2 separate regions of the Homo sapiens genome follow, and region 2 is linked to region 1. Evidence: fine-mapped expression QTL. Tissue or cell type: whole blood. Region 1 holds a variant in brackets; the other region holds the start of a gene. All regions are shown on one strand. Distances are from middle to middle.

What was found. PIP is the estimated chance that this variant, and not a neighbour inherited with it, causes the effect.
Region 2: SORBS3 starts here. The variant in region 1 is fine-mapped to the expression of SORBS3 in whole blood (TOPMed, PIP above 0.99).

The regions. Positions count from the first base shown.
Region 1 is chr8:22,411,492-22,419,491 of GRCh38, reverse strand. It overlaps SLC39A14 (solute carrier family 39 member 14), which reads right to left. Exons shown (of 9, transcript NM_001128431.4): 4 at 7,286-7,455; 5 at 4,590-4,712; 6 at 3,535-3,723; 7 at 3,212-3,419; 8 at 1,657-1,841. Among named protein-coding and RNA genes, the nearest start is that of PPP3CC, 26 kb to the left of the region's middle. The variant A/G (reference allele first, on the strand shown) is at 3,318.
Region 2 is chr8:22,547,422-22,555,421 of GRCh38, reverse strand. It overlaps SORBS3 (sorbin and SH3 domain containing 3), which reads right to left and starts at 3,495. Exons shown (of 21, transcript NM_005775.5): 1 at 3,400-3,495; 2 at 814-970; 3 at 442-559. The coding sequence starts at 915. It overlaps LOC124901905 (a long non-coding RNA gene), which reads left to right and starts at 1,297. Exons shown (of 2, transcript XR_007060851.1): 1 at 1,297-3,260. RefSeq lists enhancers at 1,396-1,475, 1,589-2,464, 2,608-2,657, 2,465-3,342, 3,566-4,530 and 1 more and silencers at 3,328-3,407, 3,558-3,737, 4,048-4,177.

The DNA.
Region 1 (8,000 bases):
CAATTCAGTGATGGAGATATAGATCAGGTTGGTTGACAAAGAAAATTATCAGGGCCAGGTGCAGCGGCTCACTAGAGGTCAGGAGTTCGAGACCAGCCTGACCAACATGGTGAAACCCTGTCTCTACTAAAAACATAAAAATTAGCTGGGCGTGGTGGCGCAGGCCTGTAGTCCCAGCTACTTGGGAGGCTGAGGCAGGAGAATTGCTTGAACCCGGAAGGCAAGGCTGCAGTGAATGGAGATCACACCACTGCACTCCCGCCTGGGCAACAGAGCGAGACTCCATCTCCAAAACAAAACAAAACAAAAAAAGAAAATTAACAATAGCAGGTACCATGTCTTTACAACTGTCTAGGTAAAACAAAGTACTCAACGTGTATGTGGCTCTGGATGAGTTTAGAGGCTGGCTAAAAATAAATGTACTCTGATAAAAAATAAACTTTATATTATAGACTTTTTTTTTTCCTTTTTTCCACTCGCTCTTGCCCAGGCTCGAGTGCAGTGGTGCGAACATAGCTCACTGCAGCCTCAAACTCCTGGGCTCGAGCAATTGTCCCACTTCAGCCTCCTGAGTAGCTCCACAGGTGCCTGCCACCATGCCTGGCCTTATTATGGACTTTAAACACTTTAAGAGGTCTTTTTGTTATCAAGATATTATTAACAAGCTAGATGCAGTGGCTCACACCTATAATCCCAGCACTTTGAGAGGCTGAGATGGGAGGATCCCTTGAGGCCACAAGTTCAAGACCAGCCTAGGCAGCATAGAGACCCCATTCTATAAAAATTCAAAAAATTAGCTGGGCATGGTGGCTGGAGCCTGTAGTCCTAGCTGCTTGGGAGACTGAGGGAGGAGGATCACTTAAGCTCCGGAGTTCAAGGTTGCAGTGACCTATGATCACACACTGCACTCCAGGCTAGGTGAGTGAGGTTCTGTCTAAAAAAAAAAAATTAAAGAAAAAGACACACCCAATGCATTGAGATAAAAAAAGAAACAAACCAAAGTATTGCTATTATTGTTTTAGGGGTAGTATGATGTATGATTATGCGTAATTTTCTTTCCTTTCTTCTGTCTCTTATCTATATACAGCCATTCCATAATAATTAATAAAGACCATAGATAAATTATAATCATTTTCTTTAATGACATATGCTAACAAAAACATAAACTTTTCCTCCTTTAAAATCTAATGCCCCCTTAAAAACCGCTGAATGGTAGGTACACCTTAAACAGACGAACTCTGTGGTATGTGAAAGAAAGCTAAGGAAGATGTTATTAAAAACAAACTACCAGCCATGTGCGGTGGTTCATGCCTGTAATCTCAGCACTTTGGGATGCCGAGGCGGGTGGATCACCTGAGGCCGGGAGTTCGAGACTAGCCTGGCCAATATGGGGAAACCCCATCTCTACTAAAAATACAAAAATTAGCCAGGCGTGGTGGCACACGTCTGTAATCCCAGCTACTCAGGAGGCTGAGGCAGGCGAATCACTTGAACCCGGGACGCGGAGGTTGCAGTGAGCTGAGATCATGCCACTGCACTCCAGCCTGGGAGACAGAGTGAGACTCCATCTCAAAAAAATAAAAATAAAAAAAAACTACCTACCTAACATCCATCCCCTTAGCCGCCCTCTCATCCAGTGAACTGTGGAACACTTACCATATCAGCCAGAGAAATATACAAGAACATTCCTCCAGCTAGCGCAAAAATCCAGTTGGCAGAGAAGTGGCTGCCGGCCAGGATGCCAAAGGCCAGACCCAGGTAGCAGCAGCAGGCAGAAAGGAAGTTGAAGAAGAGAGCTTGTTGGATGCTCATCCCAGCGTTGAGCAGGATGACAAAGTCTCCTACAGCAGCGAGAATGAAAAGGGGAGGGACGAGGAAGGAAGAGTAAGATGGGCATGGTGAATGCACACCTGTCATCCCAGCTACTCAGGAGGCTCAGCTGGGAGGACTGTTTGAGCTCAGGAGTTTGAATCCAGCCTGGCGACAAAGTGAGAGCCAGTCATACAAGGTCGTGGGAGACAGAGGGCACCGATGACATCAGACTGCTAAAAGTGTGGGTGAAAAAAATCAAGACAGCCCTAGACTCAAGACAGAAGTGACAAGACAGGCCCTTGAACTTCCTGTTCAGGACCCGTCTCCATTTGCCAAACTGGCCGTATACCCAGCCTAAAGGCTGAAAATCTTTCTCAGGATTTTAAAAATAGATGACCAGCTGGCACTGGCCTCCTCATTTCTCTCTGGATTCATAGTGAAACAGAAGGAACCCCCTTCCTCACAACTACCATGGAAACAAAATCAAAACTGCGAGAAGTTAAGTGTCGAGACTGTGAGAAGTGATTTGCCCGAAGTCACAAGTCAATATATGGCAAAGCCAGAACTTGACCCTACGTCGTCCCTAAAGCCTCTGGAGTAATTACTAGCTTTTTACACTCTCCCTCTGATCAAACTAAGTCCCTCCTACCCCCTGGTTCATCCAGCTGCCATGCACCTGCCAGGCACCTGAGCCTTTGGAAGATTAACAGGCTACAAAAGAGAGCCTTTACTGAGTGCTCAGAATAGCACCTGGCACATGGGAAGTCCCTCTCACCCTTTGTTTTCCTTTAATCCTCACTATTATTCTAAAAGGAGGTGCTCTTATTAACCCCACTGTATAGGTGAGAACTGAGCCACTGCATATGGGGCTAAAAGGAAACAAACACCCCTGTAAAAACCCCATCATTTTAAATTATCTATTTAATCGTTAAGAAATGGTGGTTAGGCCACGTTCGGTGGCTCAAGCCTGTAATCCCAGCACTTTGGGAGGCTGAGGCGGGCGGATCACGAGGTAAGGAGTTCAAGACCAGCCTGGCCAACGTAGTGAAACCCTGTCTCTACTAAAAATCCAAAAAAAAAAAAAAAATTTAGCCGAGTGTGGTGGCAGGCGTCTGTAATCCCAGCTACTTGGGAGACTGAGGCAGGAGAATCGCTTGAACCCAGGAGGTGGAGGTTGCAGTGAGCCGAGATCACATCACTGCACTCCGGCCTGGGCAACAGTGCGAGACTCCGTCTCCAAAAAAAAGGTGATTAGGGTCCATGAAGCTTTAGGAGTGTGTTAAATCAGTTACAATAAGCACTGTGAAGACAGGGAGATGGGAGCAAGGAACCGGCCACAGGAAGGGGGCCTACACCACCACCCAAGGGAGCACCAGTGGAACGGGGGACGCACGCTTACCTAGCTCATGTGGGAACTCCTCACAGAGGATGGCCACCGAGGTGCTGATGCCTTGGAAAACTGACACAGTGAAGGAAGCACCGATGGCCAGGCCATCGATGAAATT[A/G]TGGAGGCCGTCGCTCAGAGTGATCATCCAGGCCAGAGTGCCGATATCAGAGTAGCGGACACCTTTCAGCCAGTAGCAAGCACTCTGGGAAGCCTGCAGGTCCTAGGAGAAAGCACACCCCCAGGGCCCACAGCGTCAAAGGCTGGACCATGTGCCCTCAAGGTAAGCCTGAGTCAACCTCTTAGAGGCTCCACCAAGCAGCTGGTGGCCCACTGACCTGCACAGAGAGCGAGCCCACAATGACCTTCTCGTCCACCATGGGCGCCTTGCCGTCCAGCTCACTGCTGCAGTGCTGAGGAATCATGTGGTCCAGGTCCCCGTTCTGCAGCTTCTCCATCACCCCCTCCTCCTGGTCCTTCTTGGAGGGAAGCGACTCAGAGGCATAATGGCTGTGTCCATGATGATGCTGGAAGGGTGACAGGGAGGGATCAGCATGACATTCACCAAAACCACAAACCTGATTGAGCACCTGCTCCAAGGAAGTGCTTCACACACTGGAAGACCTCAGCCTTACCATCGAAGATGACACAAGCAGGTCACGTGCCCAGAAACATAGCAAAAGCTATTATATAAAGCCATGGTCGGGCACGGTGGCTCACACCTGTAATCCCAGCACTGTGGGAGGCCGAGGTGGGAGGACTGCTTGAGCTGAGAAGTTTGAGAGCAGCCTGGGCAACGAAGCGAGACCCCGTTTCTAATATCTATATATATAAATCTGCACCAAGTGCGAAGGACCTGGTGTCAGACAGATATCAAAGCTGTCTCCTCGGGGTACATGCTTATTCCACCAAGGCAGCCACTGCTCAAATATTTAGAGCTCCTCTTTTGCAATGGCTAATCTCACTCAATTCAGCAGCTATTTAGGGAATAACTGCATGCCAGCCACTAAAGATATCTTTTTGAAACTGTACTATAATAGTCCTGTTTCTCTGCAGCCTCATACTTCATACAGAATGAATGCATGGTATCAAGCTCTTCTCCCCATCCTGTAAAGATACAAATATATTAAGGAAATAATCTTAGAACAAAACAAAGGGGATAAACTACTGCTTAGTAGAAGGCACCCTGGCCAGATCTAGTTTCTGGTCTGGCCTCACTTCTGGCCAAATATCCTCAGGAGGTGAAATGGGATTGTCTCCTCAAGAAATTAGAGTTTCACGGAAATTGTGATATTGGGCTAAGACCATCACCACCACCACCACAATACATCAACATTGTTTGAGATGGGTGTTTTCCCTAGAAGAGCTTTCTTCAGCAACAATTGGGCCTCACCTCATTTTTCTGCTTAAGAAGAATCTTCAAGATCTTCTCTGTGAAAAAGAAAAGATAAAAGCCCCCAAACACCACTGCAGACTTGGAGACATAATAATCTTCCAGAGGGTTGAAACCAAATGCCTGTGGACCCAGGAAAAGAAAATGAGTTTTAAAGAAAATAAAGCATCTTTACTGATCCCCCTCTTATCTCTTAACTACTTCCTTGACTCTAGGAAAGGAGAGAGGCATAATGGAGTAACTCTGCCGTCTACCCATCCTCTTTCCAGCAAAAATCTAGTCCTTGGTGTTTCCCTGATGTGACATCACTAAACCTGCCAGGTTCTTCTCAAGCTTATTTGCTGATGCAAAAGACTGATCATCTGTAGAATTTTAATCCCAGAAAGAAAAACCTCCGATATGGTTTTCCACTTTTGATTTATCTTGGTGCTTTGCTATGAAGGCATTCTCTGCCAATAGATTTCATATTGAAGGAGCAGACACTTGTATTTATTTTCATCTTATCTAGTGTTCCTGGCTGACCTGCCTGTAAACACAAAGGGAGATGGTGTAATTATACTTTCTAAAACGGGAAACCCATTTCCCAGTTAAGTAATAAGAACTGCAGCGTTTTCCTAACCGCAGACCTCCCAGTGACCACAGAACCAAGAAAGTGGACTGTGTTATTGCGAGCGTCAATTTTTGGGTTTTGTTTTGAGTCCTTTCTGAAACTGTCACTTATCAAAGAGGGAGGGGAGAATCCACTGGGAAGAGGACAGGAGTAGAAATCAAGAGAATTCTGTCCTAGGGTAAGCTCCTGATTTATGGTGGGTTCTTGTGAATGTGTCTAATGACCTGGCCGGGCACGGTGGCTCATGCACTTTAAAGGACCGAGGTGGGTGGATCACTTGAGGCCAGGAGTTTTGAGACCAGCCTGGCCAACATGGCGAAACCCCAACTCTACTAAAAAAAAAAATACAAAAATTAGCTGGGCCTGGTGGCACACCTGTAATCCCAGCTACTCGGGAGTGTGAGGCAGGAGAATGGCTTGAACCCAGGAGGCAGAGATTGCAGTGAGCCGAGATGGCACCACTGCACTCCAGTCTGGGTGACAGAGTGAGACTGTCTCAAAAACAAACAAAAAAAAGTATCTAACGACTTGCTCCTATTTTATTCTTAAATTTTTTTGTGGGTACATAGGAAGTATATATATTTACCGGGTTGTTCCTCCATTTTCTGATGGGAAACGGGCCTTGAATAAACTTCAGCCCTCTCATGAATTGGTCCAAAATAAAAGTTGATCCCAACTTCAAGGAACTCTGGGCTGTTTGTTGCCTTTATGTTTTAAACAGGCCAAATTGAATCACCACCCTCCAGGGAAACAACACTTTCATGTTGACTTTCCAGGGGAGTCGAATCATCTTGGGGGAAAAGTGAAGTGAAAATAGGCAACGAACACTTCTCTGCAAAAAGCCACAAAGGATGGTGAATACAGAATCATGGGGTTGAGCTTCAGAAATCCCAAAAGCTGGGTTCTCGACTCAGGGATATGCGCTCTTGTGCAGGTCAGATTCCAACGTGGTAAAACGTTACTTGTTCTATCGATGCCATGGAGTTAACCTAAGGATCCACTAGGAGGGAGCCAACTGACATTTCAGAAAACACCAAGTGTTGTAAGAGGCGCATGCAGTCATCTCTGCTTCAACTGCGGCTCTGTCCAGGCCTGCGAGACCACCCACAGGGAGACGTCCTGTGCTTATTGTAATTAATGGGTCTGCTGAGGGGATTACACCAAATTAGATGAACCATCAGCTCCTTCTTTTGTGGCAAGTTTTCTCATGAACTTATTAGGCAAAGGTACCATCAAGGTATATAAAACCAGACATTGTTTGACTTGCATTGCCTTTGCCCCAAAACTCCCTATGGACAATCTTTTTACTGAGAACTGTGGGTTCTGATGATGTGGGAGTTTGTTTGTTTGTTTTGAGACGGAGTCTCACTCCCGTCACCCAGGCTGGAGTGCAGTGGTGCAATCTCGGCTCACTGCAGCCTCCATCTCCTGGGTTCAAGTGATTCTTGTGCCTCCCGAATAGCTGGGATTACAGGCGTGCGCTACCACGTCTGGCTAATTTTTGTGTTTTTAGTATAGACGGGGTTTCACCATGTTGGCCAGGCTGGTCTTGAACTCCTGACTTCAAACGATCCACCTGCCTCAGCCTCCCAAAGTGCTGGGAATATAGGTGTGAGCCACTGCACCCGGCTGATGATGTTTTTTAAACTTCTCTGCACCCAAAGCCTTAATCTGAGCACCACAACTAAGCCAGAGTGAGCTCGCTACACTGCATCTTTTCACCCCACATCAGACAGCACTTTCCGCACCAGGCACTCAGTGCTGCAGCAGACTCGCTCGTTCCACCCTCACAACATCATCCTGAGGCCGGTCTATTGCTCTCCCCATTTCACATCTGAAGAAACAGAGGCAGTGTGAGGTCAGTGGTGTGCCTGGGGTTACGGAACCTACTGATAGCAGAGCTGAGATTTGAACCCAGCTCTTCAGCCTATGCTGGGCTGCCTCTCCTAGTTCACGCCTAAGTTCTAGCTTCGCTTTCCAAAAGGAAAGGGCCTCCAGGTGCCCTCTCTATGCCTTCTATCCAAACGGAGGTCCTCCCACTGTGCCCGCCGGCATGCTCCGGGGTGAAGGCCCTGGCTTGCCATACCTCCGGGATGAGCTGGAAGAGGGCGTTGGAGTAGAGGGTTCCAATCGCCAGAGCTATGAAGTAGAGCAGCAGCCTCTTGTAAAAGGTCTTCTTCATGAAGGGCACCACGCTGGCCCCCAGGAGGGAGCAGAGGGAGATGACGGTCACACAGAGGAGACCGTATCCCCACACTGCCGTGCGGAGGGAGGGCCAGCCCCACCCAGGGCAGGGAGAGAAGGCACATGCCCCATTGCACAGCAACCACCATTTAGCGGGAGGAAGGTGGAGCAGATAGGGAGGTCGCAAGGAAAAGTTTGGTGGATATTAACGGAACAAAAAAGAAAAATCAGAGAGAGACAAGTAGGGAGGGAGAGAGAAATAGAAAATTTGTTAGTGATTCACATCTGATGAAATTTCCTTCAATCAGTTCAGAAGAAAGAGGAATTCAAGGTGGCCTTGGAACCCTGTGACTTCTGCCCCTGTGGCCACTGGTGGCCCCAAATCGTTCCTGCCAGTGGTGTGACTGGCAGGGCAGGGTGCTGCCTCGTCACACACCCAAGGTCTGCCCAGACCTATCACAGAGGCTGTCCAGGACAGACTTTGGACTCGAGGGCTCTCTTTATAGGACATGCAAGCAGGTGGAAAGAGGCTGATCACTCTGCTGCTGCGTTTGCTTTTGCATGTCCAATTCACACGGCGCAGGCTCGGGTGACACCACGACCACTTGGTTTGCTTT
Region 2 (8,000 bases), 140 kb before region 1:
CCAGGAGTTCCCAGGACCTCTGGACTGGGATCTAGAACTGCCTCTCTAACCTCCTGCTGGGTAGCCTGTTGGGCCTGAATGGGACAGTCTCCACCCCTTCCCAAGCCAACAGATACCCACATCACCTCCACCCTTCCATCCCCAGTCCCTGTGGGAGGTCCTCCGGCGCCCAGGGCTCCTGCACGCTTCCTTTCCCTGGCACCAGGCTGGAGGGCAGGGGAAGGGATGCATCAGCCTGCTCTCCCCAAGCGGGTGTCTCTTGCAGAGTCAGCAGGCTCCGCAGGGAGGGGCTCATAGTGAGCCCAGAGGCCTCTGAGGAACCTCCTCATGGCCTTGAGAACCCCATCTCCAGCTGCTGCCCCTCCCGCTTGACACAGGGCAGTGCCAGATGGCAGGGCCCTGACCCTCCATCTCCAGCATGAGGCTCCTGAGCAGACCTACCCGGGTGCTGGGAAGCATCTCGTCTTGGTGTGTAGCCCCCATTGCACACAGTCCTGGGCGCGGGGTCGTGGAACTGGAAATTAAGGGTGTTGGAGCCACCATTCCGGATCACGGGCACCTGCGGGGAGGGGCCAGGAGCGGCAGCTCAGGGCCCAGCAGGGCGGGAGGGAGGGATGGCTACTAGGCACAGCCCACACCCCTCGGTGACAGTCCCAGGCCCGCCTGACGATTTTGTGGGAAACCAGCGAGGCCCCCCAGAGCTCTCTTCAGCCCTCCCTCCATCCCTTTCATCCTCCTGCCCCCACCTGACCTGCTAGCGTCCCAACCAACTCCGGGCCCGCAGGACACCCTCCTCCCTACTGACTCACTCACCCGTGTCCCCCGGGAGGAAGACCCTATGTGGGACTGGAGGTGGCCAGGGATGAAGTCGTCCAGGCTGAGCCCAGCGCGGAGGCTGCGGGGTGGGCCCTGCATGCTTGGGTCAAGGTGGGAGGACTCCGGGCAAGCCAGCTGCTCCTCTGCGTGTCCTCTGTGGGGAAGGAGGAAGGAAGGGAAAGCCCTGCTAGGCTAGGCTGCCCATGCCCTCTTGGCTCGACCCTGGGATAGGGGAGGAGGGGCCGGCTGTGGGAGGGGGTCAGGACCAGCTGGGTACTAGCTCAAGGACCCAGGAAACAGGCCACGCCAGGCACCCGCCTGCAGGCTGCCCGTGCCTGCCGGCTCCCAGGGGCACAATGGACCACTTGTTAGGCCCAGGGCAGGAGCTCCGGGTGGGAGTGGGGGAGGGGGAGCTTGGGTGAGGAGGAGGGGAGGGGCTGGCCAGGAGCCCGTGGGGCTCTCCCTGCACGGGTGCAGCTGGCTTCCCCACTCCCCCGGAGGGAAGGCGCAGGGGAAGTGGGGCAGCCGGCAGAGAGGGGGCCTGGGAACACAGGACTTTGTTTCAGTTCCCTCTGCCTCCCCCAGGCCGTGTGGGCATCTCTTGCCTGCGGGCACAAGGGATTACTCAGCCACCCGCCCACTGCCCTCCAGGAAGCAGTCAGCAGGGCCTTAAGCCCAATAGGGCCAAGGGGAGCGTCGGGGGCATTTCCAGGCAGCAAGACCCACTCTTGCGAGCTCACAGGGAGCATCGGGCCCTTCTTTGGCCTCCTTCACAGAATGAGGACTCAGAGGGCTCCGGGTGGGTGGAGACAGAAGCGGTGGGTGAGGGCAGAGCTGAACCTGCTCATGCCCATGGAGAGTTGGTGCTGAGTGCCCTGGGGTGTTCTGCATGTGGGCAAATGTGCACGCACATACACGCGCTCCCTGGCTCCACTTTCTCCCGCCCCTCCAGGCTGTTTTGTGAGTGCAGGGTCTTCCCTGGCAGCACCATGCCTGCCCACAGCCAGCTTCTTCTGCCTCATCCCAAGGCTGGGGAAGGGGAAGGGAGCCCTAGGCACCCAGGGAATGGAGGGGCAAGAGGGGAGCCCAGAGTGGGGGTGCAAGAGGACAAAAAGGGGCTCCCAGTTTGGGGTGTCCAAGGGGGCTTTTTGACCCAGAGCACGGTGCTACGGCGTCCATCCCTCCGCGTCTTGGCTGCTGGACTGGACCAGAAACAGCCAAGCTCTGCCACTGCCCAGGACTGGATGGAATCAGGTTTGCCTGTGCCTGTGGGGTCCTTGGGGGCTCTCAGGGAGGGCTGCAAATGCATCGGGAGGAGCTGTGTGTATGTGTGTGTTGGAATCTGGGTGCAGAGCTGCGAATATGACTTCTGGGGGGACCACCGGAGGGACCACATGAGCTGCATGGGGGTTGTGGGTACAGAGGGGTGTCAGCTGAACAGTGGTGGGAGGTGCAGTCATGTGAGCAGTGGAAGAGTTGGGGGCCCAGAGGGGATGAAGGTAGAATAAGGCTGGGATGACTCAGCCCCTGGACCCAGCTCCTGCCCAGGGCTAGCGAGGGTGTAGCCAAGGCTGGGGGCAGCTCCTTGTCTCTGGTTTGAGTTTGTGGGGACTCCTGACATTTGAGTTGCTGCGACACAGCTCTTCTGTGCCCATGCCTGACTGGGGGGAGTGGAGGGCTGAGGCTGGAGGAGGAGCAGCTCCCCAGCTGGGTCCAATTAGGACTCCCACCAAAGCAAAACAGGCAGACACACCCCAGTCCCCACACTCCACCTCCCCTTGCGGGGGGGAGTTGAGGCAGGGTGGGGTGGAAGGTCAGGAGACCTGGAGCTGGTCGGCTCCTCGCAGCACCCCTCCCTGCCCAGCTGACTGCTTCGGGCCAAATTGCAGCTCAGCAGCTGCCGCCTGGGCCATCAGCTGACAGCGCCTTCCTTCCCTGACCTCCCCGCCCACCTCGTGCTCGGTGAGAACTGCTCTCTTGGAGGATGGGTAGGGCAGGAGGTCCCCCACGACCCGTAGTCAGAGGTTGCTTACCCTTGGTGCCCCCATCTGCCCCTTCTCAACCCTGCCCCTTGTGTCGCCCCCCACCACAGGAACCTCCAGGGAAGGGTGGTCCGAGTCCTTCTCTTGGCAGCCAGGTCAGGAGACTTAGGGAGGACTTACAAGGAAGAGGGCAGCATCTGGGGACTGGTCCCCCATGTAGCAGAGAGCGGAGGGGTCCTCCCAGAATTCAGACCTCCCCTCCAGGCAGGCAGCCAGCCCCGGGAGCGGGGAGAGGCCCCTGGAGCGGGAGAGGGGAGGCGGCTCTGCTGGGGTGGGCACTGGCCTCCCTGCTCTGAACACTGCCCTGACCTTGGGTGCCTGGCCCTAAGAGCTTTCCCAGGTATTTCTCAGCGACAAGGCCACGTGGACAAGGACAGCTTTTCTTGAATTTCGCTTTTTCTGGTATGAGGGCTGGTGGGAGGTACTTCCCAGAGTTTGGGACGCGGACCCCGGGGAGGGGCTAGGTGCGATTCCCTGGGGTTGGGCACGGATCCCTCCCGCCGGCCTCGCCTACTCCCCGCCCCTCCTTGCCCGGACCTACCTTCCCCGGCGAGCAGGTGGCTGGGCCCGAGGCCGCCCGGGAGCGCAGGAGCATCCCTGCCCGGCTGCTGCCTGGCGCGGGCGCTCGAGGAGGAAGGGCAAGGAGAAGCGCGGGCCGTCGCGGCCCTCGTGACCGGGTCAGGACGGGCCGGGCCGGGCCGGGCGCCGGCGCAGGAAGAGGGAGGCCGAAGGGGCGCGCGCCGGAGGCCGGACCGTGAGAGTCGCGCGGCGGGGCGGGCGGAGTTTGGGTCTCGGATCTGGACTGCGGGCCGGGGCTGGGCCGGAGAGGAGGGACGTGCGAGTGCTCTCCGTCCGTCGGGGCGCGCGCGGGGACACTGGTGGCCCCCTGCCGAGGAGGCCTGGCCGGCGGGGAGGCGGCGCCGGGAGGGGCCGCCGAGGGTCCCCGGGGAGCCCTCTCTGGTTTCCCAGCTGCCATCCCGGCCCCTACCGCAGGGCTGGCGTCGGGGAGGGGTCGGGCGGCCCGACACGGGCCACTCAGAGTTTCCAGCGACATTTCCAGAGTGTGGGAAGCGAGCGGCCTCGCAGCGGAGCCAGGACAGGGGCAGGAGCGATGAACCGGGCGGAGCCAGGACAAGGGGGCAGGAGTGGTGAACTGGGCAAGCCGGGAGAGACGGACAGGCCGGGAGCGAGATGAGGGCGCCCCGCAGGCAGAGTGGCGGAGCGGACCAGGGGAAGGCCCCGCCGCCCCTCCGCGCTGGGGGAGAGGGTGTGCCTGCGGCGGCGCGCGGCCGGTCGTGTGCAAACAAACACGCGCGCGTACACTGCAAACGTGGGGACGCTCACACACGTGCAAGCACAGGGAGGAAATCAGCCCAAGGGAGCGGCCCCCCCGGGCGTGCCGCGCCCCTAAAGAGGATAAGGGTGGGGTCCCTTTGGCGGGGATGGGATTAGGAGGGTCTTGGTGTTCCCAGACACTGTGTTTGTTTTGATCTGCCTGCTTTTCCGCTGTTCTCGCTGCTCTGAGCTGGGTCCCCAGAGCCCCGGCCCTTCCGGCTCCCCATCCATTCTGGTCATCCCCTCTCCCTGTCTCTGCCCCAAGCCTCTGTATGGCACTTCAGAAAGTGGGAATGCTTAAGGAACATTGAAGGACCGTGGAAACACTCTGGAATCCTTTCTGGCCCTTGAGTTGGCTCAGGGATCCCCAAGCCCCAAACCAGCCAACCAACCAACAGTTACTGATCAACTTTAGCTACGAGCTGGGAGTGATCAATGCTAAATTATGAAAACTAACGTAATCTCCTGCATTCCTACTGGGTGTCAGACTGGTGCCAGAGGCCACGAGGAGTTTTGGAGTGTTTTCCAAGCTCACCACTCAACTCAAAGTTTGGAAAGAAAGAGAGTAGAGAAAAGACTAAGTGATTTTCAGTCCCTACCACCATTACTGCTTTAGTCTTATCTTCTCCCTCGTTCTGGTAAAGAAGCTCTCCCCGTTGCCTTGAAACATCACATGTGAAAGCTGGAGGAGATGTTTGGGTTGAGAAGCTTCAGATAGGCCTGCTGGCCTCTAGCGCCTGCGGGGCTGCCATGTGGACACACAGCTGCACCAGCAGCAGTGGGACCACTGGGGGACACGTCATAGGGAAGCAGGTCCAAGGCTTCCCAGGACAAATTTTTACATGATTCCAGGGGTTCTGAGTCTGCCAGTTGTGGGGCATCTATGTAAAGGCAACTGTTGCACTGAGCGGGGAGCTGAACAAGATGACCTTGAAGACTCCTTCCAAGAACCTCTGACTCTCCAGGAAGGCGGAGAGATGGGGATGGCAGGGGCATTGCTGTGGAGGACAGCTGAGCAGTGGGGGAACCCTGGGACACTTCTTGAGGGACGCAGCAGTGCACTGCCCCCCAACCTGAAGCTTAGAAACCTTCTTATCCACGCCAGGTAGCCTCTTCCCTCCCTCAGGGATAAAATAGGTGCCCATTTTCTTAGACACGCATTTTTCCCACCTGTCAGGGTCCTTGGGACTAAGAAGGACCACATCGCTTTCACTTTCTTCCTTCTTCTCCCAAGATGGTGAAGCTGAAGCTCTTCCGACTCCAGGAATCCTGGCCATACCCCCTCACCAGCAGCAAGCTTCTCTTATTCTCTAGGGCTCTGACCTGGACTCCAAGATAAATATTTAGTGTAGAGGGTGCAGCAGAGCTGACAAAGTTCCCCACTTCCTGTTTCTCACAAAGGGAGGTGGCAGCCATGGGTAAGGAGCTGGGGACTGGCTACCAGTTTCATCTCTATGGGAATCGGGCGTTGAGTAAACAGCTTTGCAGGAGGAGGCGGGGTAGGTCTACGGGAGACCTGAGCTTTCTTCCTGAGCCGCTTTGACTTCTGCCTGTCTACTTAGGCCTGGGCTCTGCCGGGTTTATCACCTCTCTCAGGTCAGAATCCACCATGTTCCGTGGTGCCCATCTGGCCTCACAGCCGAGAGGATGGGAGACAGTGGGCCACAGGGCAGGGAAAACATAAGGAAATTTGACTGATTCCTCCCTTTCTGCCCTTATCTAAAGAGAAGAATTCCTTCTCTTTGAAAAGTAGATTAAGGGGGGAAAAGTAGCAGGGTTTGGAGATTGAGCCAGGAACCAGGTGTCTGATTTCCCGACGCCTCCCTCTAGCGTCAGCTCCCCTTGCTGCCTCCACAGCTGGCACGGTTAGGGAGAGGCTGAGGCTGGGAAGATTGTCCTAGATAAGGCGGCTGGCCGGCTGGCTGTCAACAACAGAACAGATTCCTTTCCTTTCCAAATCCCACTGCACTCTCTCCTTTGCATGCACGACTCCCCTGTCTAAGAGGGGCCTCCCTCCCTGCAAGTCGCGGCTTCCCCACCTCTGGCACTGCCCTTTGTCAGGGGCTGCCTCTGCCTTCTCAGAGCCACCTGAGCCACAGTAAACACAGTTACATAACTGCCCTGTTTTCCCAGCTACCTGATCCCAGGCATCAGTATTCCCCGCTCAAGCCCTTGAGGCTGCACCTTTTGTTCTGTGGGTAGTCCCCAACATCACCGTCAACAGGGGTCTGTCCACAACCCCCACCCCCCTGCAGGGGAGGATTAGCCACGGGACTACCAGTAAATGTGGCTCTTCACAGGGAGGGGGAGAAGGCGGTGGAATGCGGGTCACTCTGAAAAGCAATCTCTGTCACCAAGGATGACAAATGAGGGGAAAGAGCACTGAAGTGAAGGCGGGGTGAGCGGGGTGGGCAGAGCACCCAGTTTTAGTTCTCAAGTGGGAAAAGGGAAGCCAGGGGTCCCAGAAGACATGAACCCGGACTCAGTTCTTGAGGAGCGCCTTGCTCTGGTGCTGGGAATCGGCAATTCAGATGAGTCACCCTCTGAGATCTACCCTGGGCAGCTAGGCGGCCCTAGCTCTGTGCCTCAGTACCCCCATGGAGATACAGGGCATCTGCTCTTCCTTTCTTCTCCTCCCCAGGGATGAACTTCAGGTGCTTTGAGTAGATTTTTTGGGGGGTTTTGCTCTCAGAATTCTGAGTGTTTTCTTCCTTCCTCTAAGCTGAGCAGTCAGACCAGAAGGGGTTAGCGCAGAAAGCACTGCCCGTTTCCAGCAGTTTGGACTTCTCTAGAAGGCCACAGTGACACAATGGTGAGGAATTGAAACCAAGTCACATGGACATACCAGCAGGAATCTGGACTATGTTTCATGCCCTGGGCTCCATCCCTTTCTCCTGGGTCCTCTGTTGATTCCTGCTCCTGCAAATGTTGCCAGCCAAGTTCTACTGATGGCCCTTTCCATGCCAACCACTCATGGGAACAGGAGCAGGCAGAAGAAGGGAGTGCAAATGACCCATTTTGGGGCTTCAAAGGGCCTCCTATGCTGACAATGGCATGACGTGGCTCATCTGGAATTCAAGATTTCTGGTAGAGTCACTGTAGAGTGAGGGATCTGAGTGAAAAAATACCCAGTACAGGTCAAGTATGATGGGTATTGGGGCCTGACAGCCAGGATGGGTGCATGGAACCCCATAGGAATAGCGAATTAGGCTCTCAGGCTTGCCTGGCACAGACCTTTCCATAGCACACGCATGATGTATAATGGGCATCTATTCTGGGTTCTCAGGGCCAATCTCCCAAAGGCTGCGGGAGAACTCAGCCGTTTGCCCAATTTATCCCGCCTGTCCTCAAGGAAGTTTTGATACTGACATCACATCCACGGCTGTTCTCTCTTCCTCTTTTCATGGATGAGCAAACAAGCACAATGCACAGACGGGGTGTCTTTGAGAAGAACTGAGCTGGGTGAACCTCTCTTAGTTCTCAGGAAAGATGAAACAAACAAGTGGCTGTCAGCTCTAGAAAGTAGATTTTATAAGGGAAGGATAAGTAAGTGATGACCTCAGAGGGAAAACCAAGCCAAGTCAACTCAGCCACAAAGGAGGGCACAGACCCAGGAGCTGGGAAATTAGGTCTGCATCAGCCTTCTTTCCCAGCTCAGGTAGACTGCGATGGGTAGGATAAGAGGGCTGATCTGTTGGCCCAGTGGATACCATAAAGTACGGCTCTGGCCTCCAAACAAAGAAGAACCTTGTCTTCCCACCTCCTTGAATTCTATGATGAACCTTCGCCTTAATAGCATCAACATTA